Linked DNA regions of Homo sapiens. The protein of the gene in region 4 purifies or fractionates together with the protein of the main gene of each other region. This does not show direct contact. Each region holds a gene or a part of one and is shown on either strand. Other genes may lie near its edges. The genes, in order: CEP120, NCDN, BTBD1 and C9orf78.

Evidence for each region.
Region 1: the proteins of C9orf78 (region 4) and CEP120 purify together in Homo sapiens (affinity purification with mass spectrometry; 4 studies listed by BioGRID and IntAct, with this or other methods). This does not show direct contact.
Region 2: the proteins of C9orf78 (region 4) and NCDN purify together in Homo sapiens (affinity purification with mass spectrometry; 2 studies listed by BioGRID and IntAct, with this or other methods). This does not show direct contact.
Region 3: the proteins of C9orf78 (region 4) and BTBD1 purify together in Homo sapiens (affinity purification with mass spectrometry; 3 studies listed by BioGRID and IntAct, with this or other methods). This does not show direct contact.

Annotation. Positions count from the first base shown.
Region 1 is NC_000005.10:123,378,404-123,385,426, reverse strand, and holds part of CEP120 (centrosomal protein of 120 kDa), read left to right. Parts: intron 1-293; coding exon 294-476; intron 477-2,344; coding exon 2,345-2,441; intron 2,442-2,537; coding exon 2,538-2,690; intron 2,691-3,226; coding exon 3,227-3,316; intron 3,317-6,998; coding exon 6,999-7,023. UniProt on the Homo sapiens protein: Plays a role in the microtubule-dependent coupling of the nucleus and the centrosome.
Region 2 is NC_000001.11:35,560,778-35,567,281, reverse strand, and holds the end of NCDN (neurochondrin), read right to left. Parts: coding exon 5,988-6,504; intron 4,891-5,987; coding exon 4,649-4,890; intron 4,081-4,648; coding exon 3,856-4,080; intron 3,516-3,855; coding exon 3,373-3,515; intron 2,056-3,372; coding exon 1,619-2,055; 3' UTR 503-1,618; downstream 1-502. UniProt on the Homo sapiens protein: Probably involved in signal transduction in the nervous system, via increasing cell surface localization of GRM5/mGluR5 and positively regulating its signaling. Required for the spatial learning process.
Region 3 is NC_000015.10:83,064,232-83,071,798, forward strand, and holds the start of BTBD1 (BTB/POZ domain-containing protein 1), read right to left. Parts: upstream 3,022-7,567; 5' UTR 2,921-3,021; coding exon 2,520-2,920; intron 1-2,519.
Region 4 is NC_000009.12:129,832,276-129,840,224, forward strand, and holds the start of C9orf78 (splicing factor C9orf78), read right to left. Parts: upstream 3,001-7,949; 5' UTR 2,947-3,000; coding exon 2,864-2,946; intron 2,492-2,863; coding exon 2,432-2,491; intron 1,435-2,431; coding exon 1,383-1,434; intron 1,243-1,382; coding exon 1,172-1,242; intron 1-1,171. UniProt on the Homo sapiens protein: Plays a role in pre-mRNA splicing by promoting usage of the upstream 3'-splice site at alternative NAGNAG splice sites; these are sites featuring alternative acceptor motifs separated by only a few nucleotides. May also modulate exon inclusion events.

The DNA.
Region 1 (7,023 bases), on a different chromosome or scaffold from region 4:
CTGTAGGCAGTTGGACAAAGGTAAGTATTTGTGTATCTAAACAGAAAAGATACAGTAAAAATATGATATAATTTTATGGGACCATCATTGTATGTGAGGTTCATCATTGATGGAAACATCATTTCATATTTGGTGCCTGTGAAATTTAGCATTCAGTCTAACAATTGTGTTAGACGACATTCCAGGTAACAAAAAACATCTTTGACTCCATTGAGGGAATTCAAAGAATTTAGTTCAGAAAAGACTTTAGGTCAGAGTTGATAGGTATGAACACATGTTTCTCTCTTCCTTAGGATTCCATTACTGGTTGAACTATGGCACAAGGATAAAATGAGTAAAGATTTACTTCTGGGAATTGCGAGAATCCAGCTTTCTAACATCTTGTCTTCAGAAAAAACTCGTTTTTTAGGTTCTAATGGTGAACAGTGTTGGCGTCAAACTTACAGTGAAAGTGTGCCTGTTATAGCAGCACAAGGGTAATGCATTTCACAGAATTGGTATTTGCTTTTCTTTTCAATTCATGGAATGATTTTGATTAGTCAGCCACCACTTCACCCTTCCATAACCTCTTTTTTCTGATCCACCACTTCACCCTTTCATAACCTCCTTTTTCTGATCTTCTCTGACCTGTGGCAGCTATACCCCACTTTGCCCTTTAGCTTTCTGATACTGATTTCACCTCACAGAAGTCAAGAGTCTGTGTTACCATGGTATTGTAATATTCAGATGGCTAATTATTTTCCTTCCTCTCTCTAGCTTGAGAATTTTAAATGCAGGATCTATTTTTTTATTTTGTAATTTGAGGTTAAACTTTATAATGTATTTTATATTATTTTGCACTGGGAATGGCTAAGACTGTTTTTCCACTTAAAATATTTTACTCCTACCCCAAATCAAAAGTCTGAGGACATTATAGATATTTGGCAGTCAGAGGCAGTTTTTAAAATAATTATTGGTTTTTTGCCCTGAACTTCATTGCCACAAAGAAAAACTTGCGTTTTTTTAACATATTTTAAATACAGTAAAATATTTGTTGAATTATCCTTTCAAAATTAACAATAAAAATTTAAAATTTAACTTAACATTATATATCATATGCCCTTTATCATTAAAGATAAGACTAAAAAAAAGAGAAACAAGGCTCAGTGAAATTTTAGCTCTAAAAGTATTGAAATGTCTTTCCTTATTCCTCACCATTCATGGCCATTTTGTTTCAACTCCTATTATTGAAGAATCTTTCTTAAAAATTAGCATTTTTTTGTCGTAAGTAGAAGATAATAAAATCACTAATAATTGAAGCTATTTTAATGCTGCCCGTTTGTTATGAATATTAACTTTTATTGCCATACTTTGTAGACAGAAAGTTTTAGGAGATTTACTTAAGTGAGAACCTTAGATACTCTCAGGAGTTTCTGTCAGATACAGTAGTGCTTCATTTAACTTTATTCATTTCTTCTGAAATCTGTGAGATTAGAAGAAGAAAATACAAAAGTTGGTTAATTAAGAGTTCTAATTGTGTGAGAACCATTCATTCAAGTTTTGTTTGACCAGAGTATATTTGATTTAGACAAAACCATGGTTTTGTATTACTAGCATTTTATTTTCTTCTAATATTTTATCTTGTTCTCATTTGGTTAATGACAAATGCTGCATGCAGTTGTATGATACAAAGAGGTGCTCATTATGCTCATACTAACATATAATTATCCTAGAAGCATTGCTTATGTGCCAATTAGGCCTAGAGGCATTGCTTATGTCTAGTAAAATATTTATGAGTATGTACATCCCAGGAAAAGTAGAAAAAAGAATTCAGAATAACCAATATAATCAAGAGTAGGGGAATTGTTAAGTATATTTTACTACATAAATTCATTTGTATATTTTACAGGCAGTAAAAAAAAAATCACATTTTTAAATTAATGTTATGATGTGAGAAAATGCCCCTGATGTAAATAGGAAAACAAGACAAAACTGTATGAAGTCAGCATGCATGTGTGCATGTATATCTATATATAAATAAAACAGGAGGGAAATAAACTACATATTAGCAATAATTACCTGTGGGCAGTAAGATTTTAAATTTCACCTTTATACCTTTTAAAGCTCTCATAGGGGTCATTTTGTAGTAAATGTATGCGTGTATTTAGCAGGGTGTTTGTGATGATCAATTTATATATATATGGAAGGTGTTGAAGCCTACAGAAGTTGCTGCAGTTTCAAAAACAATAGAGTTAGGAGCAGAAAATGTTGCTTACTTCCCATTGCTAAAGCACTGGGGAAATAAAAGGAAAAATAATATAAAGTATTTCTGTGAATTTTAAGGTATTTCTTATTTTATTTGTAGATCAAATAACAGGATAGCAGATCTTTCTTACACAGTGACTCTAGAAGATTATGGACTAGTAAAAATGCGTGAGATTTTTATCTCTGATTCATCTCAGGTAAATATAATTGAATGTTATCAAATTTTTTTTAAAAGGAATCTAATGTGCATATGTGTGTGAGTGTTTAAATGTACTTTTTGGTTCATCTCTTAGGGTGTATCTGCCGTACAGCAAAAGCCGTCTTCTCTTCCTCCAGCACCTTGTCCTTCAGAGATCCAGACAGAGCCTCGTGAAACGTTAGAATACAAAGCAGCACTTGAGCTAGAAATGTGGAAGGAGATGCAAGAAGATATATTTGAAAATCAGGTTACTTTTTAAATGTTACTTTAAAAAATCTGCTTTGTCTGCTCTGTATATTTTTCCTTCTCCGTAGCAAGGTTTAATCTCTATGTTCTGTAGGTACCTTATCTAACTTCTTTGAATGTCAACAATGCTTTACTTAAAAAAATTTGAGAATCAAAAAATACCTGAAATGTGGCACCTTGGCAGAAGCCACTCAGAATTCTGTAAACTTTGTTCATGATTATTGGGTAAAATTGGGAAGTTACTCTTTAAATTTCATGTCCTCATTTGGCATGCCCTCCTGGAACCTTGCATCATTAGTCTCCAAACAAGAGTTAGAAAGCACAACCCACTGTTAGTTTTATAGTTTCCTGAAGTGAACTCAAATGGGCATTATTTGCCTCAGGCATCCTCCTTTTTTTTTTTTTTTTTTTTAGAATAAAAAAGAATGCCTGAAAAAATCATATTAGTGATCAGCATCGGTTATTTAACTGACAACTGATTCATTTATTTGACATATTTGGGGTTTTTTGGCGACTTTATTTTTCTTCCTTTTGTAGCTGAAGCAGAAAGAACTGGCTCATATGCAGGCTCTTGCAGAGGAATGGAAGAAAAGGGACCGAGAAAGAGAATCACTAGTAAAGAAAAAGGTAATAACTTGTGTAAAAGTGAGGAAGAGAAGGAAGAATATTAATGATAATATCTTGTATTTGCGTTAAAGACAGTCTCTGGAAGGAATAACTAATTTTAGTGGTGATATGTTGGCATGGAAGAAGTGAGTGGTGGCTCTGGATAGAGAAGGGAGGCGTTTCACTGTAAAGTATTTTGTGCTTTTGGAATATGCAAATGTATTACCTATTCAAAAAATATATAATATAGGCCAGGTATGGTTGCTCACACCTGTAATCCCAGCACTGAGGGAGGATTGCTTGAGGCCAGGAGGTTGAGACCAGCCTGGACAACATAGTGAGACCCCCATCTCTTAAAAAAAAATATGTGTGTGTGTATATGAATATACAAAAATGAATAGAGAAAAACCCTGCTGATGTATAAAAAAGAAATAAAAGCACATTTCAATATATATAAAACTACATATTATAATCTGTAAGTTAATAGAATGCCTCAAACGTTTAAGCTATTTTTAAGAATTATGAAATAAATTACATTTTTAAAAATGATAACATGAGACCATCTGATTTTATTCCTGAAGCAAAAGCTTAATATTTATCCATTTACACTGAAGTTATTAAATAAAACAACCCTAACAGACTTTCTTCAAATATTCTATTAATAATTTTAGGACTTTAGAAATACTCTTATTAGTGGTTAATCAGTATTCAGCTTCAGATTTGAGGGGATGGCTCTACAGGGCTCCAGTGCTCCTTCTCTCTATAACCCCCTCCTCTCATCAACTCTAGTTGCCTCAGCCTCTCTGGTCTCCATTCCGTTTTCTCAGCTCAGCAAGATTGCTAGTGTCTGTTTGGGTTCCCCTTCCTTGAGCTACTACAGTCTTCAGGCAGTAAGCTAGATATATTGTAGTGGTTGCCTCATTTATTTCTCACCTTTTAGGGATCATTGTCCTGTGCTGCCTGTTGCCCAATGTCTAAAAACAGTTGTTTCATAAATGTTGTTTAAGTTGTGTTTATAAAGGAGGGCCATTTGTCTTTTATGGGTGGAAACAGAAGTACACAGGCCTTTGATTTTAAAATAACCAAATCAGCTTTTTCTAACTTAATTCTCACCATTAAAAACTTGAATAACCAGTGAACTTTTAAAAAAGCTGAAAGACAAAAATAAGAGTATTTCAAAGTCTCTATTCTTTAGAAACGTTCAGATAACCAAAATTACAATAATTAGAAGCCCTGACATACATTTTAACATTATGCGAGTTATCCTGTTATTAAGTGAGTTTCATATTAAGTAATATTTACAGACCTCACCTATTAGATATTCATTGAATCTGGGGGAGCTGGAAAATACCATTTTAATTTTTAAAATTTTTAACCTAGCCTTTAAGACAAGATGAGTTTATCCTTGAATCATTTCTCTTCATTGTGTTGAAGAGTATTTTAGTATTGAGGTCTGCAAAATTCAAATCGGGAAATACTTGAAAAGTTAATAAAATTACTAGAACCGTGACAAATTCACTTTGTGCCATAATTAAACTTTCTGTGAAAACTCACCAAGTAATTTTTGGTTTGTTGTCATTTTGGTAATAATGATCTTTTCAGCTAAAATTTGTAATTGGTTTCCATTTATACACTTCTACCCTTTCAGCCTGAAATGATGAGTTCCTGGCTAGTTAATAACTCCAGTCAGAAAACAATATGATGCCTACATAATAAGTGTTTGTGCTGTTTATTCAAATTAGTCATATGATAAAGGTAGATCTGAGATTGAGATTTGCCATTTTCTTTCAACCTAAGTGCATTTTTGAGACCAAATACTTTAATTCATTTGTCTTAAAGTATCCTGTCTTGCATGGGATCAGTTTTTCTTTTAAATTTTATCAACCACTACAAAATCAAGTCAGTAGTGAGAAAAAAAAGTTGTTTTTCAGTATGATGAAATATTTTAAAGCTAAATACCCTGAGACTCTCACTATAGTATTTTTTAAATGTCAATTATATGTGAGCCTTTTCGTTTATTTACCTGATTTGTCTTAAAAAACGATGTATAACTTCTTTCACACTTTGAAAATTTACCTGAAGGAGTAGATATATACGTGGTTCTTGTTCTGCCCTCTGGAGCAACTGAGATATACTCTGTCTTACATATGACTGCCTGTCAGATAGCTGAAGATAGTCATTACCCACAGAGAAGGAAGACATCAGTTCTACATAAGGAAGTGTTCTGTAGATAAGATCATGCTTTCACTTTGGTGAAGATTAGTGGATATTGCCAGGTAGACTCAAAGGGTATTCCGGACACAGCCCCTTGAGGAAAAGGCAAAGAAGTTTGAAATACACTCTGCATTAAGAAAATTATATGTAGTTTGATGTTGGAAGAGGGGAGGAAAGAGTGTGCCTCAAGAAATAAGGTAAGAGAGGTTGATACCCTGGAGAATAAATGATCTCGTAAATCCATTATGTAGAGTTTAGACTAGATACTGTAGGCTTTTCTTAGCCAGGCCTTCCTGAGAGAATGAAGCCCTTAATACCCTAAGTGATCCATTATTGGTAATAAATTAACTTTATCCTATGCATCTAAAATGGTAGTTATGTACCATTTTAGGAGAGGATGGAGAAAATAATTAAATCATTTTCTGTGTTTTGTGGTTCAGATGATAAACCCTGGTTGAGAACGGTAGAAATATCAGAAATTTTTTAAATGAAGATTTTTATATAAAATAATTAGGTTTTCATTCTATAACAATAATTCTGATGGAGGTACAGTGGCTAGAATAGAGGAATGTGAAACTAAAGTCCAGGAGACCAGGAAAGCAATATGTATAAAAAACGAAAGCCAAAAACTAATAGTAGTGAAAGGTTATGGAGAAAAGATGGGTGGTAAAGAGATGATTTTAAGGAGGTTTAGGACCTCAAGCGCTAAGACGTCCTCACGGCTGCTCACAATCCTACTGCTTTCCCTAGTCAATTCATTTTCTCACTCGCCAGAACAGTTAGTTTTTGTCTTAACAAACAATCCTTCCTCATCCTTACCCGGTTTATCTCTGTCTTTGAAACACTTCCTCTATTTGGCTTCTTTGACTATATTTTTTTTTTGGACTACACTTTTCTACTGTTGTGTTCCGCTGTCTTCACTGGTCTCTCTTTCCTAATTTTCATGCTAGATTCTCCTCATGTTGGCTTTATTGGCTTGTCCCACAGCCCAGTCCTCAAATACCATCCTTTCTTCTCTCTGTATACTCACTCCTTGGATGATGTCATTCACTCTCTTGGCATTATATACACCAAGACACCCACCACACGCACCCCCATCCCTGACTTCTTCCCTGGACTCCACACTTGGCTATTTAGTTGCTTACACTACATATGCGTTTCAAATTTAGCAGTCTTTTGTTTCCATCCTCTGTAAATTTAGATTAAGTCTAACATACTAGAGGATGTGGAAATCATAATATGTGAATAACAGTTAAAATTTGTGTTTATCTTGGAGAAGAAAAAAGACCAAGAGGAGGAAATATGACCATCACCAGTCTCAAATTCATAAAAGCACATTTTTTTCTTTGAATTGGCGGATGTAATTTGTGACTTTCCTATTCTTAGGTCCTCTGTTTCAGTGAAATGATGTGTATTTTTGAATTTGTGTGTGTTTTAAGTTTGGGAGAAGGTAGGTAACTTTTTTTTTTTTTTTTTTACTATATTTTAGGTGGCTGAATATACTATTCTAGAAG
Region 2 (6,504 bases), on a different chromosome or scaffold from region 4:
CTGCATGTTTTGTTGGATCAGTAGTTATTTAATTAAAGATAGTTACTGACATTCAAAAGTTGGGTTTCACATACAAATTAGGATTCCTGACTTCTTTAAAAATGGGAGGATATGGCAGGGCCACTTGGCAGCAACCCAGTGACATGGGGGCGGGGGTGCAGTGTTTCATCTGTACTTGAGAGCACCAGAGCCCCCACAAGGCCTGGCCACATCAACATGAGTTTGGCAATCTGCTGTACAAGTGAAAGATGTGGGCTGGGGAGTCGGATGGCCTGTGTGGAGTCCTGGCTCTGGCACTGACTAGCGGCAACACCTTGAGCCAATCACTTATCCATGCCAAAGTTGCTTTGTCTGTAAAATCAGAACCCTTCAGAGGATTCTTGGAAGGGCTGAATGAGGTCTCATGATGTGTTTAGCAGGGCATGTGTTCAGCACCTGGTAGCTGTGAACTGATGGAGCCTGGAAGGGAGAGAGCAGGTGCAGGGCAGACCACGCAGGAGGCTTCTCGTCACCAATGAACATTTATTGAGTGTCCACATGTGCACAGCTTTGAACTTGGCGATCACAGAACGCACTGGGGGAGGGAAGCAAGGGATCAAGAGTGTGTGTGTGTGTGTGTGTGTGTGTGTGTGTGTGTGTGTGTGTGTGTGTGGTCCCCCTGGGTTTATAAGAAAGGTAGTCCCTGCTGGAGCCGCCAGTCGCGTCTCTGCAGAGAGGAGTCATAGCAGGGGTGGGAGTTAAAGCCAGGCACCACGGTGGCAGTGGAGTGTAATCACTGGGGAAACATGCGGATTCTGGGGAAGTGTCCCTCCTGTTCCTGGCTCCAGCCAGGCCAGATGGCACCAGGGGGACAGGAATCAGATGCTCAGGTGTCCAAGCAGGGATAAGGACAGGCAAAATAAATAACCCCCCAACCCCCATCGTCACTCTGCTGCAACACGACACAAAGGTTTAAAGATCTGGGCCCAAAGACTCTGGGTCCCTTCAAGCAAGCTCAGGTGGAAGGAGGTTTCCCCACCCCCCACCAGGCCTGTCTGCCCCAGGTTGCCCTAGGATGGAGGCAGTTCAGACCCTGGGTCACTGAAGCTGATAGGAAGAACTGCGATATCAATGGCCTAAGCCTGCTGTCTGCCCAAGGGAGCCAAGGGCAAGAGCCAAAGGGCCAATTTAAAGGACGTGGACCTGGGGGGCCAGAGGAGGCACCACAGCCGAGGGGAGCCCACGCCCTGGCCGGCAGGGCACATGGGCTGAGGCAGTCTGCTCCTGCCAGCCCTGTCTTACCCTGGAGCCTCCCTCCTGCAGGGGAGCCAGACATCGGGCACAATGACACCTAGTGCCCCCCTCCCTGGGGGCTGCTCCAACCTTCCCCGGCCTGGCGGGGACAACCACGTTGATTTCCAAGCCGATCCCTGCCCCCATGGGGGCCTGAGGGGCGGAACGCAGTTCCTTACACTTGAGGGGTGGGCACCATGCCCTTGCCCTCAGAAAAGCCAGAAAGCTGGGGTGTTTTGGGGAGGAAGTCTGGGGAGGGGGGGGCCAGATTGGGGGCTTCAGGGAAGATGCCTCCTCCCTCCTTCCCTCTCTGCCCGCCCCTGGGTCTGTCCCCGGTGGACACCCCTCAGGGCTCTGACAGGCACTGCTCCAAGGCAGCCATGCGGTAGTGGCTGGCCGTCTCCTCGCCCGCCTGCAGCCTCATGGCCTCCCGGCACAGCCGGTTGGCCCGCGCCAGCTCCACCAGGACACCCTGATAGGCGGCCACCATCTCGGGCTTGACAGAGTTGGGGCTGACACTGCCTAGCAGCTGGAGCAGCTCCTGCGGCCAGCGGGAGCGCAGGGCAGCGGGGGCCAGCCAGGGCAGCAGAGGCACACAGCCGGTGAAGGCCTGCATGCCCAGGAACCAGAGCTCCTGCAGGTCGGCCCAGATGCCCTCATACTCAGGGGACAGGGCTAGCACTGCCTGGTCTGAGCCCGGGGTGGCCCGCGCCACGTGGGACTGTGATAGGAAGAGGATGGCAGCTGCGAAGAACCCTCGGGATGCTGGTGTTCCCTGAAGAGCTGCAAGGTAACGGAAGGAGTGGGGCATGAATCGGACAGGCCAGCTGCTGTGTCAGACCCTTCCCTAGTCCTCTGTGTAGACACATGCAGGAGCCAGGGCACAGCCTGGAATCAGACTGCCTGCGTTGAAACCCTGCCTTAGATGCTCACTGTGTGACCTTGGGTAATTAACTTTTCTGGGTCTGTTTCTTTACTTGTAAAATGGGCCAATAGTGCTCATCTTAGAAATTTGTTGTGAGAATTAAATGTGATCATCTTGGTACACTCAACCACCAAGACCTCTACCGGCACTGGAGGTGGGGGTGAGTCACAGGGTCAGATGGGAGAGAGAACCCCTCAGGGTTCTGGACACAGAGCTCAGACACAGGTTAAGGGAGTTGCACCATTTGATCCTTGGGCCAGAAGAGGGCGCCAGAGAGGAACATAAGCAAGTGACCCTGCTTTGCTTACTGGCTGTTCAAGGGGTGACCCTCACACTGCAGGTGCTCTCCAGGAAGCTGTCAACCTAACCTGGTGGTATTTGAGGGTGAGCCAGAACTGGGACCATGAAATTGGGGGCTGCAGAGATGCAGCCTGGGACTGAGAGTGCAGAGTGGGCTCCTGGTGTACAGGGATGTGCACCCCTTCCCATGACGGGGTACCCTGCTGGGAACCCCTCAAAAGGAACACAGAGGCAGTGGAAGGTACGGGCATGTTACGCCCTGTTCCCAGGCATCTGCTCAGCTCCTCCAACCTGACAGATGGGGCACAGGGAACAGGCAGGGACAGAGGGACCCAAGCAGACACCCACAGCCAAAGAGGGAGACACGGAGGGCTGCCAGGGGCTGGAGGGGACGTCCCTCCCCCTGCAAACAGCCAGAGTGAGGCAGAGCTAGGGAGAAGGTGTGCATAGAGGGACACCAAGTGCTGAAGGCTGTCACTGATGGGGGTGAGGTACCGAGCAGAGCAGAGAAAAACATCAATGGAAGGAAGTCAGGTTTCTGACTCAAGGCCTGGGTGGGGGCGGCTCCACCTTGAAAACACTGGATTCAGATTCCTCTGGCTGCCAGGGATTCCAGGTGCCTATGCCTGTGCCTGTGAGCAGGTCTGTACTTAACACCCACCAGACTTTGCCTTAAAAGTCTTCAGAAGAAAGAGAATGTTAGCATTTTGGGAAGAACGGTGGGGGTAGGGGATGGAGATACACTGCAAAGATTTCCTCTTGCTTAGAAAATGCTGCAAAACCATCTTCTAAAAATGGTGACTTTTGCCCCAAACACAGGAGGTCCACCCAGGTCTTCTGTCCTCACCCATCAGGACTGGATCCCCAGTTCTTACCTGGAGAGGTGCTAAGGAGCCGGGCCATGAGGAGCCCCAGGGTGGCCACATTAGCAGCCAGAAGCAGCCTTCCCTGTTGCTGCACTAGTGCTGGTAGCGACGTCATGAGGGTGTTCATTAGAGATGTGAAGCAGGCGTCACGCCTGGAAAAGAAAGGGGGGAAGGATGGAGGTAGGTGGGGGTCTAGTACAGCCAAATCAAGCCCTTGGCAAGAAATTAGGCAGTAGGGTGATTAACTTTGGGCCCCAAACATAGCATCTGGGGGGCAGAGATTGGAACAAGCAGACATGCTGAGACAGTACCTGGGGGTTCCAGCATGCCGAATCCTTGTGCGGGGCTGGCTATGTCTACTCTGAGACCCCCATGCTACCACTAACAAATCCATGGGCATGGGGGGCAAAGTAGGAGACTGAGAATTGAGGCAACTGGGCAGCCTCCTTTGCCTCCTCCGGCCTCCTCCCCCACCTCTCCCGAGCCCCTCACTTGATCAGCCCCGGTGCGGTGACCACGAGGTTGAGGAAGATGTGGCAGCAGGTCTGCAGGCCAATCTCCACGCTGTCAGGCAGCACCGAGGTGTCGTGGCCAGGGGATGTGAGTTCCCACTGCTGCAGGAAATACTTGCACAGAAGCGAGGGGGCCCCTTCCTTGATCAGGATCTCCCGGGGCCCATCTTCAACGGTCAGGTGGCACCAGCCAGGCAGGAGGAGCCTGGGGATGTGGAAGGGACAGACGTGTGTGGGATTGGGAGAGATGAAGGCACATAGATTCCCTTTTTAGGGCACCTTGCCTAAGAGAAATGGAAGTAGGGGAGAAGGACACATCCTCGCAGGTACCACAGAAAAAGTACAAGCTTCAGAGTCGCACAACCCAGGACCAAACTTGGGCTCTGCCACAAAGTGTGACTGTGGGCAAGTGACTTTAATCTCTATGAGCCTCAGTTTCCTAATCTTTCATATGTGAATGAGACTTCTGTTATATTTACCACGTGGACCAAATGAGATCATTTTGGTAAAGGGTATAGCAAAATACCTGGCTCGTAGTAGGTGCTCAATAAGTATAAGTTCTCTTTTAACTGAGAAATCTGGGGTTGGCAAGTGACACCTGGCAGCCGAGGAGTCCTGTGGGAACAAGCCCCCCAAAACAGAAATAACCCTAAGGGATATCTCATGGCCCAATCAGGAAGCCTGGCACAGCTCAGTTTGTGGGGAGGGGTGTCCTTGTGTTAACGCTTTTCGGTAGAATGATCTAGCTGGACAGACTGTAACTACAGACTCACCGGAGAGCGTCTCCTGGCCAGGTGGGCCCTGGGGTGGTGGGGGAGATGGCCAGGTTGGCCACCTGCTGGGAAAGGTCATTGGCCTCCTCGGCCTCCTCGTAGAGGGTCTTGGCATAGCGGACGAGGAAGGGCAGCAGCTGGCACACCTCCTTACGCAAGGATGAGGTCTCCTCGGCCAGCCAGGCACCCAGGATCCGCACCGAGGCAAACACAAAGGGCTCCTTCTGCTTCTCTGACCCCACCTGTTGCCACAGGACCCCCTTGAGATGGAGCAGGACCAGGGACCCTCCCTGCCTTGCCAGAGGCCAGCCAGCTAGAAATAATACAACTAGAAGGAAATTCTGGCCTGTGAGCCTTTCAAAGGCAGGCCCCAACCTTTATTCTGTCCCATGAACCCAGCACCTAGCATGTGGTAGGGACGCACACAAGGGACTGGCACAGAGTGAGCCAGGCCCTCCACACACGTCTGCTGAGTGAACTGGGCCTGAGTGAATTGAGTGACATGCCCCCGTACTCGCTGAGGCTCCAGTCACATCTCCCTAACTCCCTACCTCTGGAGTGTCTCAAGGCTAGAAGGAAATTCATAGGTCAAAAGCTAAGTTAAACACCCTTTACAGCAGCTCTGACCTGGGGTGGGAGGGCAGGTTCCTGGCTACTGTGTAACTGCTCCCAATGGTGGGAGTGAGGGGATGCTCTCTTTTGTGCTAAGTCAGAAAAAAGACATGAGCTTAGCGTGGTGCATGGAATATATGGCTGGTGAGCTCGGTGGCTGGAGCAGGCCATTAAAGAGACCAGAGTCATGACTGAATCCCTGTGGGACAGGACAGCTGGCCTCTCAGGCGGGGAGGCAGGAGGGGATGTAGGGGAGGCAGGCGAATTGATCTAGCCAGACCTCTATAGAGGCCAGGAACCAGGCAGCCCTGCTTCTCTTCCCTGCACCATTAGAAGTTCGGGTGTGTGCGTGTATAAAACAATGCTATGGAGTGAGCAGAACAGACTGCTTCAATCTTGTGTGCATGTGTTGGGGAGAGGTGTGTGGCGTGTAGTGTGTGTGTATTGGGGGGAGCGTTTGAGTGGGAGGTTACTGTGTTGTGTGTGTGTGCGTGTGTGTGTACTGTGATGTGAGTGCACATATGGTGTGTGGTATGGTGCTTGTGTGGAGGGAGGGAGAGAGAGGGAGGTTGGGCCGCACACTACTCCCTGGAGTGCTGGCTACAGTATCAGCTTGTGTGGACATGCAGCTTCGCTGTCTCCCCATTATTCTCCTCCCCCTTGCCTCCCAGCTCCAGCACTGGCTCCCCCCATACTGGGCCCCCTCTGTGGGTCACTGCACCCTCACCTGCAGCAGGTAGTGGATAACAGCCCCTATGGCCTCCTTCATGACGCTCACGAGCTGCACCTTCTGTGGCTCCTTAAGCAGTGACTGCTCACAGCGAGTGCATTCCTGGATCCCCAACTCCATGAGGGCATAGCAGGCGGTCACCACATCCTCTTTCACCTCCGTGCCCGTCTCCTCCAGTGCCAGCCGCACTTCCACGCACGCCAGATTCACCAGCAGGGCCAGGAACTTGCTCCCGGAGCTGCCCGCCGGGATCCAGTCGGAGCCGCAGGCGTGTGCCAGGCGGGCTGCCAGCTTCAGTGCAGGGTTGCGCTGCCAGGAGCTCAGCTTGCTTCCCAGGATGCGTGCCAGCCCGGCCTGCAGATCCCGGTAGCATTCAGGGGGCACGGTTGTCGGGGGCAAAAAGAGGGGCAGCAGCTGGCAGAGCTCAAACTTGCTGGCATCCTCAGCTTTCTGGAAATCCTCACTGAGGCCCCGCAACACGGCCAGCAGGTCGGGCTCCGCCTCCTTCCAGCAC
Region 3 (7,567 bases), on a different chromosome or scaffold from region 4:
GCTAACAACAACATCTACGTTACACAGCCAGCCAAAATTAAATTTAGAAATCAGTCCAGATATCAATTTCAAAATAGAACAATGACCAGAACCTGAAGGATAAATACAATGCTAGGAAAATAAAACACACTGAAAATGTAAAAATGAAAAAAAAGTTTAAAAATGTAAAAAATGTTTTACAATGTGAAAAAAAAAATTGCACTGTCCTACATTTCAAACACTCTAAAATTAACTTACTTTCTATTGATGGGAAAGCACTAATTAGCAGCTTCGGTGAAAATATTAAAATATGTATTTTTCCTCTACATTCTTATCCTAGTAATCTCAATATTTTTTCAAAGTAAAAAATTGCCCCAAAATAGTTTTAGATTTGTGGTTCTTAAATTTAGTTTGTATAAGTATCACTTAGGGAGAGTGTTAAAAATGCTACCAAGGTCTCACCTCCAAATATTACGGTATATAATGAGGATGAGATCTACACATTTCATAAGCACCCCAGAAGATTATAATGCAGACGGCCCACAGATCATTTTGAAAACTACTTCTAGTCTAGAAAATCCAAATGAACTATACCCAATCCTCCTGGTGAACTTTAAACTAAAATGACCTGGATTTTAGCTTTTGAGGTCCCCCCCCTTTATAAATGTAACTGAACTAAATTACAGAAAATATCAGAAACAAAGAATAAAGAAGAAAAAAAGGTACTTTCATCTCACTACTCCAGGTGACTTTGCTTAGCATTTTGGTATGTTTCCTTTTATCCCGGTCTCTAGGTATATGTTTGTTCCATGTCTTTTCACGTTGTAACCATGGTGCAGTTTCAAGTGCTATCCGTCATATTTAGTGACTGCATTATATCTCATCAAGTGAACCTACCACTGTTTAACCATTCCCTACAGCTGACTACTTCCTCACTACTATAAATAAAGCTGTAAATATTTTTGTATGCAATTTGCAATACTTGAATGCTTCTTACGTGTGGAAAGAAAATCTATAGCACCAAACTGTTTTCCAAAAGGGTTTTTACCACCATCTTTGTCAGAAAATGCTGTTCAGATGTTACCTTTAAATTTTTTGGTGGGATTAATGGAAGGAAAAAATACCACTGTCTTTTAATTTGCACTTCCTAATTACCAGCCAGGTAAAACATTCGTTAATTAGTTGTATTTTTTCTTTCTCTAAGTTATCTATCCTGTCCTTTATCCATTCGTCAATGGAATCTTATTATTTGTTTCTAGTTGTGTGAACTTTACATTCATTTTCTTGTTCATCTTTCTGATTCAACTGTGAACCTTTGTATCTAATTCTGTCCCACTGACCTGCCTGTTTTTGCTTCAGTACTACCCAAGACTCTGCCATTTTAATAACAACACGTTCTACTCAGGCAGCTATTTAAAACCATCTTAGTATAATGAAACAGACATGGTCTTCAGTGTGAGTTAGCTGTTTGTTACCTTGGGCAAGATACTTGACTCTTCTGGGCCTCAGTCCCATTTGTGAAATTGGGGTAAACAATTCTTACGCCTCCCTAACAGGATGGCTGTGATTAAAAGCTAGTAATGCCAAACAATCACCTTTTCATTAGATGTCAATCTACTATCCTCAAATAACCAACAAGCAAATTCTAACATCAAGGGAGGGATTCATTTATAAGCAAATGTGACCTTGTGTGTAGAAACACAAAGCAGGTAAAGCCTCACTTGTCTGTTTTCGTATTTACTTTCCTGGGTCTTGACAACTAATACGTTAATGAAAAACAAAAACAAAAACAAAAAAGTGGCCAGGCGCGGTGGTTCACGCCTGTAATCCCAGCACTTTGGGAGGCCGAGGTGGACGGATCGCTTGACCCCAGGAGTCCGAGACCAGCCTGGGCAACATAGTGAAACCCTCTCTCTACCAAAAATAAAAATAAAAAAAATTAGCCGGGCGTGGTGGCGCGTGCCTGTAGTCCCAAATACTCGGGAGGCTGAGGTCGGAGCATCACCTGAGCCCGGAGAGGTCGAGGCTGCAGTGAGCCATGATCGCGCTACAGCATTCCAGCCTGGGCAACAGAGCAAGACCTTGTCTCAAAAAAAGCGGGGGGAAGGGGGTGACAATAACCCCAAAACATCAGTCCTGCAAGATTTTTCAACTACTCTCTTCCCCCAAACAAAAACATAAAACTTCGCAAATGGGCAATCAGGACAACCTGATCTGCCCCTCTATCCTTGCCACTTGTCTAATTCTGAAGTCTGAGCGACAATCCATAATTGGAATGCGAAACGCCTTTCAATGGTAAAACGCACGCTTGCCTAATGAAGACACTAACGTTTAGTTGGCGACTGAGCCGTCCTGGTTCACAGATTTCGATTTCGACCCTCCGGAGCATCAACGGCTCGGGAGGAAACTGAGGCCCCGGGCGGGTCAGAAGAGCCCAGCCCAAGGTCATCCGGGAGTCCGGGTAGGCCGGGCCCCGGGGATCTCCCAGCCCGGCCCGGCCCGGCCCGGCCCGGCCCGGCCCGGCCCGCGCTGCCGCTCACCTCAGCAGCGCCAGGAAGGCTGCGGGCTCCACGTCCGGCAGCTCGATCTCGGCCGACGTGGTGGCCATGCCGCCGTTGAACATGGCGTCAAAGACGGCGCTGCCGGCCGCCAGCACGAAGCGGTGGGCGGGGATGCGCTGCGGGCCCCCAGCGGCGGCGGCGCCGCGACCCTTGCCCAGTACGAAGCGCACATCGCTCAGCAGCTCCGAGTTGAAGAGGAAGGCGAAGCGCTCCTTCAGCGACGCCTTGGTCGCCTGCCAGTTGTAGAGAGGTTCCCGCTGCAGGGGGAGCAGGGGCCCCAGAGAGGACGGTGAGGGCGGCGGCGGCGGCCCCGCGGGGCCCGGCTCCGCCTCAGCCCCCGACGCCTGCTCCCCAGCTGCGGCAGGCCCGAGTGAGGCCATCCTCCAGCTGCGCGGTTGCCCACGTTATGGACAAAACTCCGCCGCCATCGCCCAGGCCGCCTCCGGAGGCCGGCGCTGCCTCCCTGCCTTCCGGGAAAGGCGCTTCCGGGGGCCTCGCGCCTCCGCAGGCCCCTCCCTGACCGCGCGCGCCCCCGCACGCCCGGGTTGCCGCTGTGCGCGGCCGCGGGAGGTGTAACAGGACTGGACTCCCGGCAGCCCCAGGGCAGGGGCGTGGGGAGCTGGTCCTAGCTCAGCGCTCCCGGAGGTGGAGCTTCTGCAGGCTGGGTGCTGCCGGGCCTACGGGCACCCACCCCCTGGCTCAGTGCCCTGGGTATTCTGACTCAGTAGGTCTGGGGTAGGGCCTGAGAATTTGTAATTTTAAGATGCATCGTGGATCTGCAGGCGGCTCTCACGGCTGCCTTTTTCTTCCTGCAGGCCCCTTATCACCAAGTCCAGCGCCCCCATTGTGTATCTGGGACATGTCCCAAGGCCTGTCCCGAGGAGTGTTTTGCCTGGAAGTGGAGGGGCAGGAAAGTATGGCCAAGGGAACACGTGAGGGAGGGGATGACATGACTTCCCACAACCCTGTACCCCAAGCGTGGCCAAGTCGCCGCTCCAGAAGGCCGCGAAACCCGTGGAAATTCCGGAAGCAGAGGTGGAAGGCTTAGAACCCCAGTGACCTCTCCCCAGGTCCGCAGGTCCCTTTCCCTTCTAATTGACCCTTTGGTTCCGTCCTCTGGGCCTAAGAGACATTTCCTTCTACTGCTTCCACCCCTGTATTTGAAACCCCTCGTGCTTGCCCACCTTCTCTTGTAGCGCTTTTCAGTCCTTGCACTGAACCACTGCCTAAGCTTGAAATTTAAAAAATTAAAAACTAAAACACACACACAATGGAAAAGGCTGTATTATCCCTTCCCAGGCAGTATTTACAACCCGGTCATCATGATTGGGGGACCGAGGCCTTCCTTTTTCTCCCTTCAGTGAGGCAGGCCCTGAGTTAAGTCAGCTGTCAAAAGCAGAACGTAGAAAACCCAAGAAATAGTCCTTGACCAGGCACGTATAGTTGGAAACACCTGTTCTTTGCAGGAAGAGCCTTACAGATTACAAATGCCGTCAAGTAAATAGTAAACCCCAAACCTGGGTTTCTCCTGTAAAATCACTCCACTTGTGAAACCACCAGAGGGGACTTCCAGCTGTTAGGCATTTAGAATGGTAACTTCTTTGGGAGAGGAACGTGCTTGGGAAGAGACTTAAAGTAGTAGGGGCTGAAATAGTGGATGCACAACCCCTTCCCCATTGCCAGCCGGCAATTCCTAAAGACAAAGGGACATCATGCTACTAATGATACCATTATCACACCTAACAAAATTAACCATATCATCAAATCATCTATATATGATTTTTTTTTTTTTGAGACGGAGTCTCGCTCTGTTGCCAAAGCTGGAGTGCAATGGCATGAAGTCTGCCTTCCGGGCTCAAGCGATTCTCCTCCTCAGCCTCCCGAGTAGCTGGGGTTACAGGTGCGTGTCACCACATCCAGCTAATTATTTGTATTTTTAGTAGAGACGGGGTTTCACCATATTGGCCAGGCTCCTCTCCAAGTCCTGACCTCGTGATCTACCCGCCTCGGCCTCCCAAAGTGCTGGGATTACAGGCATGAGCCACCAGGCCTGGTCCTATGTATAATATTTAATGTACAGTTAATATTTGTTTCTCCACTTGTCTCTAAAAAAATTTTTTTTTGAGACGGAGTCTTGCTCTGTTGCCCAGGCTGGAGGGCAGTGGCATGATCTCCGCTCACTGCAAGCTCTGCCTCCCACGTTCACGCCATTCTCCTGTCTCAGCCTCCCGAGTAGCTGGGACTACAGGCACCTGCCACCAAGCCTGCTGATTTTTTTTTTTTTTTGTATTTTTAGTGTGTCCAGAGTTCGTTCCTTCTGGTGGGTTCGTGGTCTTGCTGACTTCAAGAATGGAGCTGTGGACCTTCCTGATGAGTTTTATAGCTCTTAAGATGGCAGGGACCCAAAGACTTCTTCTGAAGAGCAAAAGAACAAAGCCCTTATGTCATGGAAAGGAACCCCAACGGGTGGTTGCAGTCTCTGGGCGTGGGGGCAGGAGGGGAGGGGCCGGCGGGGGTGGGGGGGGTGGAGTCAGCTTTTACTTCCTTATTTGTCCCCGCCCATGTCCTGCTGATTGGTCCATTTTACAGAATGCTGATTGGTGCACTTTACAGAGTGCTGATTGGTCTATTTTACAGGGTGCTGATTGGTCCATTTTACGGAATGCTGATTGGTCCATTTTACAGAGTGCTGATTGGTCCACTTTACAGAGTGCTGATTGGTCCATTTTACAAACCTCTAGCTAGCCACAGAGTGCTGATTGGTGTGTTTTTACAGAGCACTGACTGGCACATTTTACAAACCACTTGTAAGACAGAAAAGTTCTTCAAGTCCTCACCCTACCCAGAAGTCCAGTTGGCTTCACCTGTCATTAGTAGAGACGGGGTTTCACCGTGTTAGCCAGGATGGTCTCAATCTACTGACCTTATGATCTGCCCACCTTGGCCTCCCAAAGTGCTGGGATTACAGGCATGAGCCACTGTGCCTGGCCAAAAATATCTTTCACAGATGACTTTTTTTCCAATCCAGGATCAAATCAATGTTCACATATTATTGACTGTGTTGACTTCTTTGAAGGTCCGGGGAATTGTGGAGTATAATGCTCCACAATCTGGATTTGTCTGGTGGATTCTGTATGATTCATGGTTAGATTCCAGGTTAAACATTTTAGGCAAGAATATGCTGGTGATGTTAAGTACTTCATTGCCTCACTTCAGAAAGCGTATGTTGGTGATGCTAAGCTTGATGACCTGGTGAGGCTGTGACTGTCAGATCCCTCCATTATGAAGGTGTATGATTCTTATGTAATAAGTAATCCATGAGGGTGATGCTCTGAGACTGTTTGACCAGTCTGTTTCCCCAAAAAGCTTTCACCTACTGATTTCAGTATCCATTGATGATTCAGAAAATTAATTCACTTACTACTTTTAAGTGTCATCCCAGGTATTCTAATGCAGGCCTTTCATAGATCACACTCTATAGTATACTATACTAGCTAGTTTAAAAGGAAAGAGATTAAAAAACATAGAATTGGACATAAGAAAGGATATATAAACATAATTGTGGAGTTTAAAAATATGAGTAATTCTATTAGTGGCTTTGAAAATATCAAAGGAATGTACTCGTCTAGAAAACCTGGACAATTCAATTATCTATACAGGACATTAAAACTTTCAAAATAATAACCTTCAGGGAAGACTGGTTCCAGATGAGCTCGTTAAACATGTTATTATTGTTTTAAAGGAAATGTTTAAAATAATACATGTTTGTTATAGAAGTAAGTAGACTTCCAGTTTCAGCCATAATGTACCAACTTGTCTAACCCTCCCACCAAAAACAACTATACAAGCTGGAGTGTGTGTGTGTGTGTGTGTGTGTGTGTGTGTGTGTAAACAACTGTTTGAAGGCATTGTTAAAGAAAAAAATTATTCTGGGCTGTTGCAGTGGCGCACGCCTGTAATCCCAGCACTTTGGAAGGACAAGGCAGGCAGATCACCTGAGGTTAGGGTTTGAGACCAGCCTGGCTAACATGGTGAAACCCCATGTCTACTAAAAATACAAAAATTAACCGGGTGTGGTGACATACGCCTGTAATCCCAGCTACTTGGGAGGCTGAGGCAGGAGAATCGTTTGAACCTGGGAGGCAGAGGTTGCAGGGAGCCAAGATCGTGCCGCTGCACTCCAGCCTGGGCAACAGAGCAAGACTCCATCTCAAAAAAAAAAAAAGAAGAAAGAAAAAAATTATTCTGACACTAGTTAAAATGGTAAGAAAGATTTTATTCAAGATGATTGCAGTGGAAGCATTGCAACAGGAGAGAGAGATCAGGCACAGTTCTGAAAACAACATCAACAGCTGGGCATTTATAGCCAATGAACAAAGTGAAGGGGGGTCAATGGGTGGAAAATTACTAAGATGATGCGTTAAGGGTGGGGAGATTCTTTCTAAGACTGGGTTGGGCAGGCCAAAGACAGGATATGGGCCAAGGTAGAGGCCTAGTTGAGAAAAAAGTCCTAAGGAGCCTGAATAAAAAGTTTGGTCAAGGGAGTTTTTGTCAATATTAAAGAATAACAGATGCTGGCCAGGCCCAGTGGCTCATGCCTGTAATTGCAGCACTTTGGGAGACCGAGGTGGGCAGATCACCTGAGGTTAGGAGTTTGAGACCAGCCTAGCCAACATGGTGAAACCCCATGTCTACTAAAAATACAAAAAAATTAGCCAGGCGTGGTGGGGGGCGCCTATAATCTCAGCTACTTGGGAGGCTGAGGCAGGAGAATTGCATGACCCCGGGAGGTGGAGGTTGTAGTGAGCTGAGACTGTGCCATTACACTCCAGCCTGGGCAACAAGAATGAAACTCCATCTCAAAAAATATATAAATAAATGAATTTTTTAAAAAAGAATAAAAGATGGCCGGGCACAGTGGCTCATACCTGTAATCCCAGCACTTTGGGAGGCTGAGGCAAGTGGATCATGAGGTCAGCCATTTAAGACCAGCCTGACCACGATGGTGAAACCCCGTCTCTACTAAA
Region 4 (7,949 bases):
ATAAAATAGTATAATATCTGCATCTAACCTACACACACACTACCATCTGCTTTAAATCATCTCTAGATTACTTATAATACCAAATACAATGTAAATGCTATATAGTTGTCACAAAAGTACACAGTAAACTTTTATTTTTTTAATTTTTGAATTATTTGAATGTTTGATTTATTAATTTATTGAGACGGAGTCTCACTCTGTCACCCAGGCTGAAGTGCAGTGGCGCAATCTCAGCTCACTGCAACCTCTGCCTCCCGAGTTCAAGCAATTCTCCTGCCTCACCCTCCTGAGTAGCTGGGATTACGGGTGCCCACCACAATGCCCGGCTAACTTTTGTATTTTTAATAGCGACAGTGTTTCACCATGTTGGTCAGGCTGGTCTCGAACTCCTGACCTCAGGTAATCCGCCTGCCTCAGCCTCCTGAAGTGCTGGCATTACAGGCATGAGCCACCGCAGCTGGCCTGAATTTATTATTTTTGTTAATTGTTTTTATATGAAACTTCCCCATAGGTTCACTTATTTTATTTTTTTGAGACAGGGTCTTTCTCTGTCACCCAGGCTGGAGTGCAGTGGTGTGATCGCGGCTCACTCTAGCCTCAACCTCCCTGACTCAAGTGATTCTCCCACTTTAATTTCCTGAATAGCTGGGACTACAGGCACATGCCACCACACCCAGATATATACACACACATATATATATGCGTGTGTGTATATATATATATGTGTGTGTGTGTGTGTGTATATGTGTATATACATGTGTGTATATACATATGTGTATATGTGTGTACATATGTGTGTGTGTGTGTGTGTGTGTATACATACACACTTTTTTTTTTTTTTGTAGAGACAGGGGTCTCACTATGTTGCCCAGGCTGGTCTTAAACTCCTGGACTCAAGCTAACCTCAGCCTCCCAAAGTGTTGGGATTATAGGCATGAGTCATCACGCCTACAATACACTCTTACAAAAGGAGTCTACCAACTTGGCTCTAAGTTAACTTTTAAAGACTTTTTGCTTTCTTTGTTTTTAAATAACACACCCTTTGCAAAGCACAAAACCTGCTTCAAGATGTCCTACTAATGCTGCTGCTACAGGCCCCAGCTCTCTGAGGGAACCTAGACCCAGGCAGCCGCTAAAGGTGAATTTGCATCTAAGCTTGTCCTGAACTTACTTATCTTTGCCCCTTTCCTTCAGTTTCTTCATATCCACCATACCACCTGTCTTCATCTGAAAGGGATCATCCTGCAGAAAGCAAACACAGTTAAGAGGAAGCATCTAAATACATGGTAGTGGAATTTTTTTTTTTGTGAAGCACGCTCACTCACTGAAGAGCACTGCAGGGAGGGCTGCCATAACTACTCAGGGAAGACCCCATAACTTACCACTAGAGTGGTCTCCTCTTGTACCTTCTCTCCCACCAGCAAGGCCACAGCACTGAGCAAAACCAAAAAAAAAAGAGAGGGGGAGAGAGAGAAATGGCATAATTCAGAGATAAGGAGGAACCCTCTCAGGTATGCGGATTGCAACATTAGTGCAAGGGTGGGATTTGAGGGGTGGGTAGGCAAGCCGGCTGGAAAAGCCTATAAGCATAAGACAGGGCTCAACGAGCACCGCAGATGCTGGAAGAAGGGTGCGCTGGTGGTGAAGTGGTACACTTTGCCACTTTCCTGTAAAGCCATTTGGCATTATCTTGGCCTGGAAATCTCATTTCTAAGATATTCTCATCATGGAAAGTGCAGCTAAAGATAAATTTAAGAGAATATCCACTGCAGCCTTATTTGATAGTAAAAATTTACAAAATCACCTACATGTCCCAAAATAGGGGATTTGTTAACAAATTACAATACACACATCTGGTGGAATATTATGCAGCCATTAAGGCTTTCTGAAAAATATTCCACAATATGGGTGAATGCCCACAATGTCATAATGAGTTGAAAAGAACAGGGAATAAAAGTACATAGAAAGTTGTTCACAATCTGAGAGAGAGAGACGAAAAAAAACAGATTGGAAAGAGTATTCAATATTAATACCAGTGCATTCTTGGGTGGCTCTGCAAGGAAAAAAAATGTTAACACTGATCATTTCCGGATGGGAGAATTATGGGTGCTTTTTATCGTCTTGACTATACTTTTCTAAATTATACAAACTCTTAACGATCGATATGCATTTCACAATTAATTGGTTTTAATAAAAAACGCGAGTTAGTGATCTGTTTCTGTATCTCTGGAGCACACCCCGAGACGACACAGCTCAGGGCATGTCCTGGTTAAACATTTGCAAAGAACGCTGTTCTCCAAGTTGGGCAGTGGAAGGTGTACAGTGTGTCAAGAGAAAAATCTACGTCTGAGGAGATATTTGTGACAGCGACCCGGACGCGGATGTGTCTGTCGTCCCCGCCGCCTCCTCCTCCTCCCCGCGTGGTACCCACCTCACCCCGTTGGGCCTCTTCCTCAAGTTCTGTACCTCTCTGGTCTCTTCCAGTTTTAATCTTTAAAAAGAAGAAGAAGCAGCAATGCATAAGCTGAGTGATTCCCCGCGGAATCCAAAGCTAACAGAGCCAATAAGGCACCTTCGAGGGCATCCCAGCCCAGCTACTGAGCCACCAGCACAGTGGTCCAGAGGACGACCTTGTGCCTAGACCCACCGGGAGTCAGAGCCACTGCGCATCCCGGAGGCATCTCTCTCAACCGTTCGAGCTTGGGGCGGTGGCCTCACCCCTTGAGCCTCAATTTCTGCGTCCGCAGAAGGAACCACCACCCGAGCTCACAGTTAACAATGTCAGCGAAGCGCCGAGCCGGTGGTGAGTCCCCCAAACAAGTCTATCTTTACCAAGCCTATGGGAGCCCCGCCCCAAACGCACCGAACCTCCTCTGAGTCCTGCTCATCTTCCTCTGACTCCGAGTCGCCCCGGCGGCGACGGAAAATCTTCCGGACGACCGGCATGGTGACAACGGCCGAGTTGTACAGCCGCCGCGCCTCTGCGCAGCGGCCCAGGCTGCTTCCGGCGCGCGGCAGAGCGGTCAGAGCGCCTGCCCCGTCTGGCCCCGCCCCCGGCACGCACAGTCCGCGTGGCCACGCCCCCTCTCCTGGCGTCAGCCTCTTCCGATTGGACGGCAGAGGGAAGGAGGTGGGGCGTCGCCAGACGGCCCCACAACCCTGCGCGTCGCCTCAGAGGGGGCGCGCTTGACTGACAGGCGGCGGCGGCGCAGTTGCGAGTGCAGGTGAGTTCCGGGCCGCCACCGGCTGCTTCTGTGGGCCGGGCCTCTGAGCATTGGCGACCCCAGCCCGGCTCCGGGCTGACAGGGCCTGGCTTCGCCAGGTACGCCAGACGCAGCGGCCCGGTGAGCGGAGCCCGGGACCCCCCCGGCCGCCGCCGCCCCTCTCCCCTCCTCCGGTCGGCGCCCAGGGGGGCCTCTGGGCCCCAGCACCACCCCACTCTGAGCTCCCTGGGGGCTCGTGGCTTCTCCAGAACCGGGGCCGCCCCCCTCTCATTTCTGCCGGGGCCTGACCTAGCGTTGAAAGCATCCGCGTGGCGTCTCGCGTCTCGGGCGCTGACTTTTCTTTCCTCGGGCTCTGAGCCCTGACGTGCGTTTTTTTCTTTCGGAACAAAAGATGACCACTTCTCTGCGGTGCTGACTTAGAGTCCCAGCGCCGACTGCCTCACAAATAATGGCCCCCAGCTTCTCCGCGAGGAGAGGCGCGTCTGATGTTTTGAAGCCACGCAAGAGGGTTTGAGCCGGGGGACTCCTCCTCGGTGCTTGCCGGCCACCCCCCTGGACCTTCACGGGTCTGGTTTTCCTCCTTCGGCAGGTCTGTCGCTCTACCCTCTGCCCCTTCCACCCCGAAGATGCTGTGAGGATAAAGTTTATTTGAAAAACTGGTATCAGCAAACGCTTAGGAAATACCTAAATGCATAAATAATGGCTTCTAGGACTTTTAAGAACCCCTTAAGTAACAGTAGTTTTCCTTTTCTCAGTGTCATCCCTTACTTTGAGAACTACCTCTTATTAAGCAGTTACTATGTGGCAGGCCCTGGGCAAAGCATCATCTCATTGAATTCTCCCAGCAATCCTTTGAGGTAGATTGTTTTTCGTTTTACAAATGAGAATGCGGAGTCTCCGAGGGGCAGTGCACGCCTCAAGTTACCCAGCTAGGAGGTGGAACAGGAATTGGTTGCAGGTCAGTCTCTGCCGCACGGTTTGCACAGGGCCTGGCACGGTAGGAGTGCAGTAGATGTTTGCTGCTGCTGCAGCTGCTGTTACATCTCATTGGCTAGGGGGAGGGGCCGATGGGGGCTGTCTGGGGTTCCCCTTTCTGGAAGACCATTCCGAAGCAGGGCAGCATTTCTAGAATGCCTTACGTTTTCTCTGGAACAGTCTCCACTGAGATTGTTCTTCTCTTCCTTGGGCTGGAAAAAATAGTAGACTCGGGACTTCTTGCACCAGCGTTTTATCTTTGGTCAAAAGCCATATATTAAAGTCTCAAAGTCTTGCCCTCTGCAGACTGGTTCAGCCAAACCCAGATGCACGTGCACTCACTGGATACGGAGTCCCTGTCAGATGATGGAGAGGCTCCTTGGGAATTGCTGCAGGAGTCCAGGGGGTCAACGTCTGCAGCTCTCACGCTCTCAGAGGTGGCTCTGAATCTGCCCATCAAGCAGCCCATCCACCAGGGGGTACTGGACACTACTAAGGAAAGGGCAAGAAGGCCAGGGGCATTTCTGGACCCTCCTCCTCAGCTGAAGTCCCAGGGTACAGATGAGCTGCTCCCACCCTTGCTCCATGAGGCCAGAGGACCCAGTGATAACCACCACCTGTGCTGTGGCAGATCTAATTGAGTGCTCTTTAGCAAAAGGAATGCTGAAAAAGTGGCAGCTATGAATCTGGCAGTAAGTGGCTTTGCCAAGAGACTGCAGCCCAAGTCTCACTGGGCCCTTTTAAGCGTAGGATGAGACTGTCTCTCAAAAGGACCCTCCGAGAAATACAGGTTCTATGCAGTTCAAAGATGAATCCAAGGTCTTAGTCTTGTTTGGGAGTTCAGTTGTTTTAAGAAAATGTACAGATTCAACCTAGGTTTTGGTTGGTTTCCTAGCTCCTTTCTGGAGCCAGATGAAATGTTGGCTTGTTTCAGGGTTCAGGGAGCATTCATGTCCGATTGGATTTGGGATCCAGCAACGTGATACAGTTCACAGCCCAGCTATAGTCGGCATCCAATAAATGTATTTATTGGATCAATGTATTCAACAGATTCTTAGCATTTACTATATGAGCAGGCACTGTTCTAAGTGCTTGAAATAAGTCAGCAAAAGAGACAAAAGATCCCTGATTAGTTGAGTGTATGTTCTCACAGTAAAGTATGTAAAGTGTGTTAGAAGATGGTAAGTGCTGTGGAAAAGAAACAAATAGAGCAAAACAAGGGAATCACCTCCGGGAGGGTGGCAAGGTTGAGTTGCAAATTAAAATTAGCGCATTCTGGTTTGGGATTTGGTTGGAAACATGACAGATAAAGCAGTGGATTGAATGATAGGCCTTGGGTTCCAGTCACTGCCTGGTGGTTTTAGGGGTCTGTAAGCTTGAACTTTATTTTACAAAAGCTTTTATTTAGAGTGTACACCCTGAACTCAAGTCCTGATTGTGGGGTATTTAACAGTGATGAAAGAGCCAGGCTGTTCTTAGCCTTTTACCTTAGCAAGACAAACAGTATCCAACTGGTTCTCATTAGCATGAAGGAGGAAACTTGGAGAAGCCATGCACGTTGACAACAATTTTTTTTTTTTTTTTTGAGACGGAGTCTCACTCAGTTGCCTAGGCTGGAGTGCAGTGGTGCGATCTTGGCTCACTCCAACCTCCGCCTCCCAGGTTCAAGTGATTCTCCTGCCTCAGACTCCTGAGTAGCTGGGATTACAGGCGCCCACCACCACACCTGGCTAATTTATGTATTTTTAGTAGAGACGGGGTTTCACCATGTTGGCCAGGCTGGTCTCAAATTCCTAACCTTGAGTGATCCGCCCGCCTCAGCCTCCCAAAGTGCTGGGATTACAGGTGTGAGCCACTGTGCCCGGCTAACAACAAATATTTAAAGGCAGGAAAGTGGCAGTGCTCTTTGGCTCCAGTGAGCAGTCATGGCTCAATAAATAGAAATTTCAGGAGAGCCAATTTCCATTGATTATAAAGACTTAGGTTTGTAGCAACTAGAGCTGCCCTCTGGGAAAAGGGTGATTTTATCATCAACGACTGCTCAAACTGGGTTTGGAGAACAACCCAGTATGGCTTTTACAGAGCAGAGTTGTGCCTTAAGGGGAAGATGCATGGTTTCTAAACCCCTTTAAACTCTGAGATTGCATGGGGGAAGGCAGCTGCAGATCATGCTGCCTGAAAAGAGAGGATCTGATTTCAGGCCCCAGAAATCATGATTTTCCTAGTTCTTAGTTTCCGCATCTCTAATGTGAGTTTTTTCTAAGGTTTCTAGTCTGAGCTTCGAGACTGAGTTTCTGCTCATGCTTACTCACCACTGAGTGTGAGGCTTTTAATGACCTGGGCCAGTGACTGGCTGCAGCCTAGGGTAGCCCCAAACCCACGCCTTCTCCAATTAAGGGACTCTTCCGGACAGAGCTCAGAGCAAAGGGTAGTAGCAGGCTTTGAGCTGCAGGGAGATACTGTCATATCCTAGACTGAAGGAAGTTAAGCTGAGCAGAAAAATGCTCTGAAGAATGACTCAGAAGAGGCTCTTGTGAGGAAGCTTCCTTGGAGTACGCGTGTTTGGATTTGGGGAGGTGAAGGTCGTCCCCATGCCAGGCTGGCCGGGGCTGTTTGTGACATCGTGGAGCTGAGTGTTCAGAGCATGGGCTTCAGGGCAGGTAGTCGTGGGTTCGAATTTTGGTTCTGCAGCTCAGTAGCTGTGTGACCTTAGCCAGTTATTCCACTTCTCTGAGCCTCGGTGTCTCCATTGTTAGTGATGGAGATGGATTTAGTTTGGAACCTTGCCACCTCCCAGGGTGGTTGTGAGGGTCCAGTGAGGTCACATGTGAGAACACCAGACTAAGATGTTAGTGTCAGTTCCAATATTCAGGGCCGTGGGGCAGGGGGAAGGGCGATGAGGAGACACAGAAGTGTGTGGGCAGCAGAGACTGTGGAAGTGTGGAGGCATGGGGAGGCCTGAGGGCTCTGCTTCGAGAGTCAGAGGATGGTGGCCTCCGAGTGAGGACTGGGTTAAGGGAAGGGGTGGGTGTGTCTGGGACTTAGGGAGAATGCTGTTGTGTGGAGGTAGAGTAAAGACAGCAGGAGGGAGAGAAAGGGTGTGCGAGGGCCAGAGGGGACTGTGGAGGGGGTGGGCACACACCCTGTGCGGGGCTGGGGGTGTGAGATGGCTAATGTGGTTGGGGTCAGCGTGGGCAGGGCTGTGGGCATCGTTGTGTGGGTGGGAGGCCCAGAAGTGTCGCCCTCCCCATCCTGAGGGACTGGTTCCTCGCTGGGAGGAGGAGGATGTAGCCAGAACCTCTGGGAAAACAATGAGTAACAGGCACCAGAGGCAGCCAGGTCCAGATGTGCTGCCTACCTAGGACCACAGGCTGTGCTGGCTGGTCCCTCCCCTGCCCTTCCTCAGGCCTTGCCCCTCCACTTTGCCCCTGTGGGTGGAGTGGCACTTTCCCCCACCCTGGAGGCCCAGGGAAGGAAAGCTGCCTTTATGAGCCTGAAGCATCTTGGAGGTCTCCTGGGGCCAGCAATGGTGGGCTCTTTGCCAAAAGTCTCAGGCCTTCCTCCCCCCATCCTGTGCTCTCCTGCCCCAAGAGAGGAGGCTCTGGTGGGCCGGGAGGGCGGGGCACACGCTGCACCTTGCTGACTTGTTGTACAGTAGGTCCTACTCTGCGTGGCTGCACCTGGAAGCACGTTCTTTCAGCTGCACAGGTGTCTTTCCCTTTTGGCCTTTATGAAATGCCTGCTGTGCAC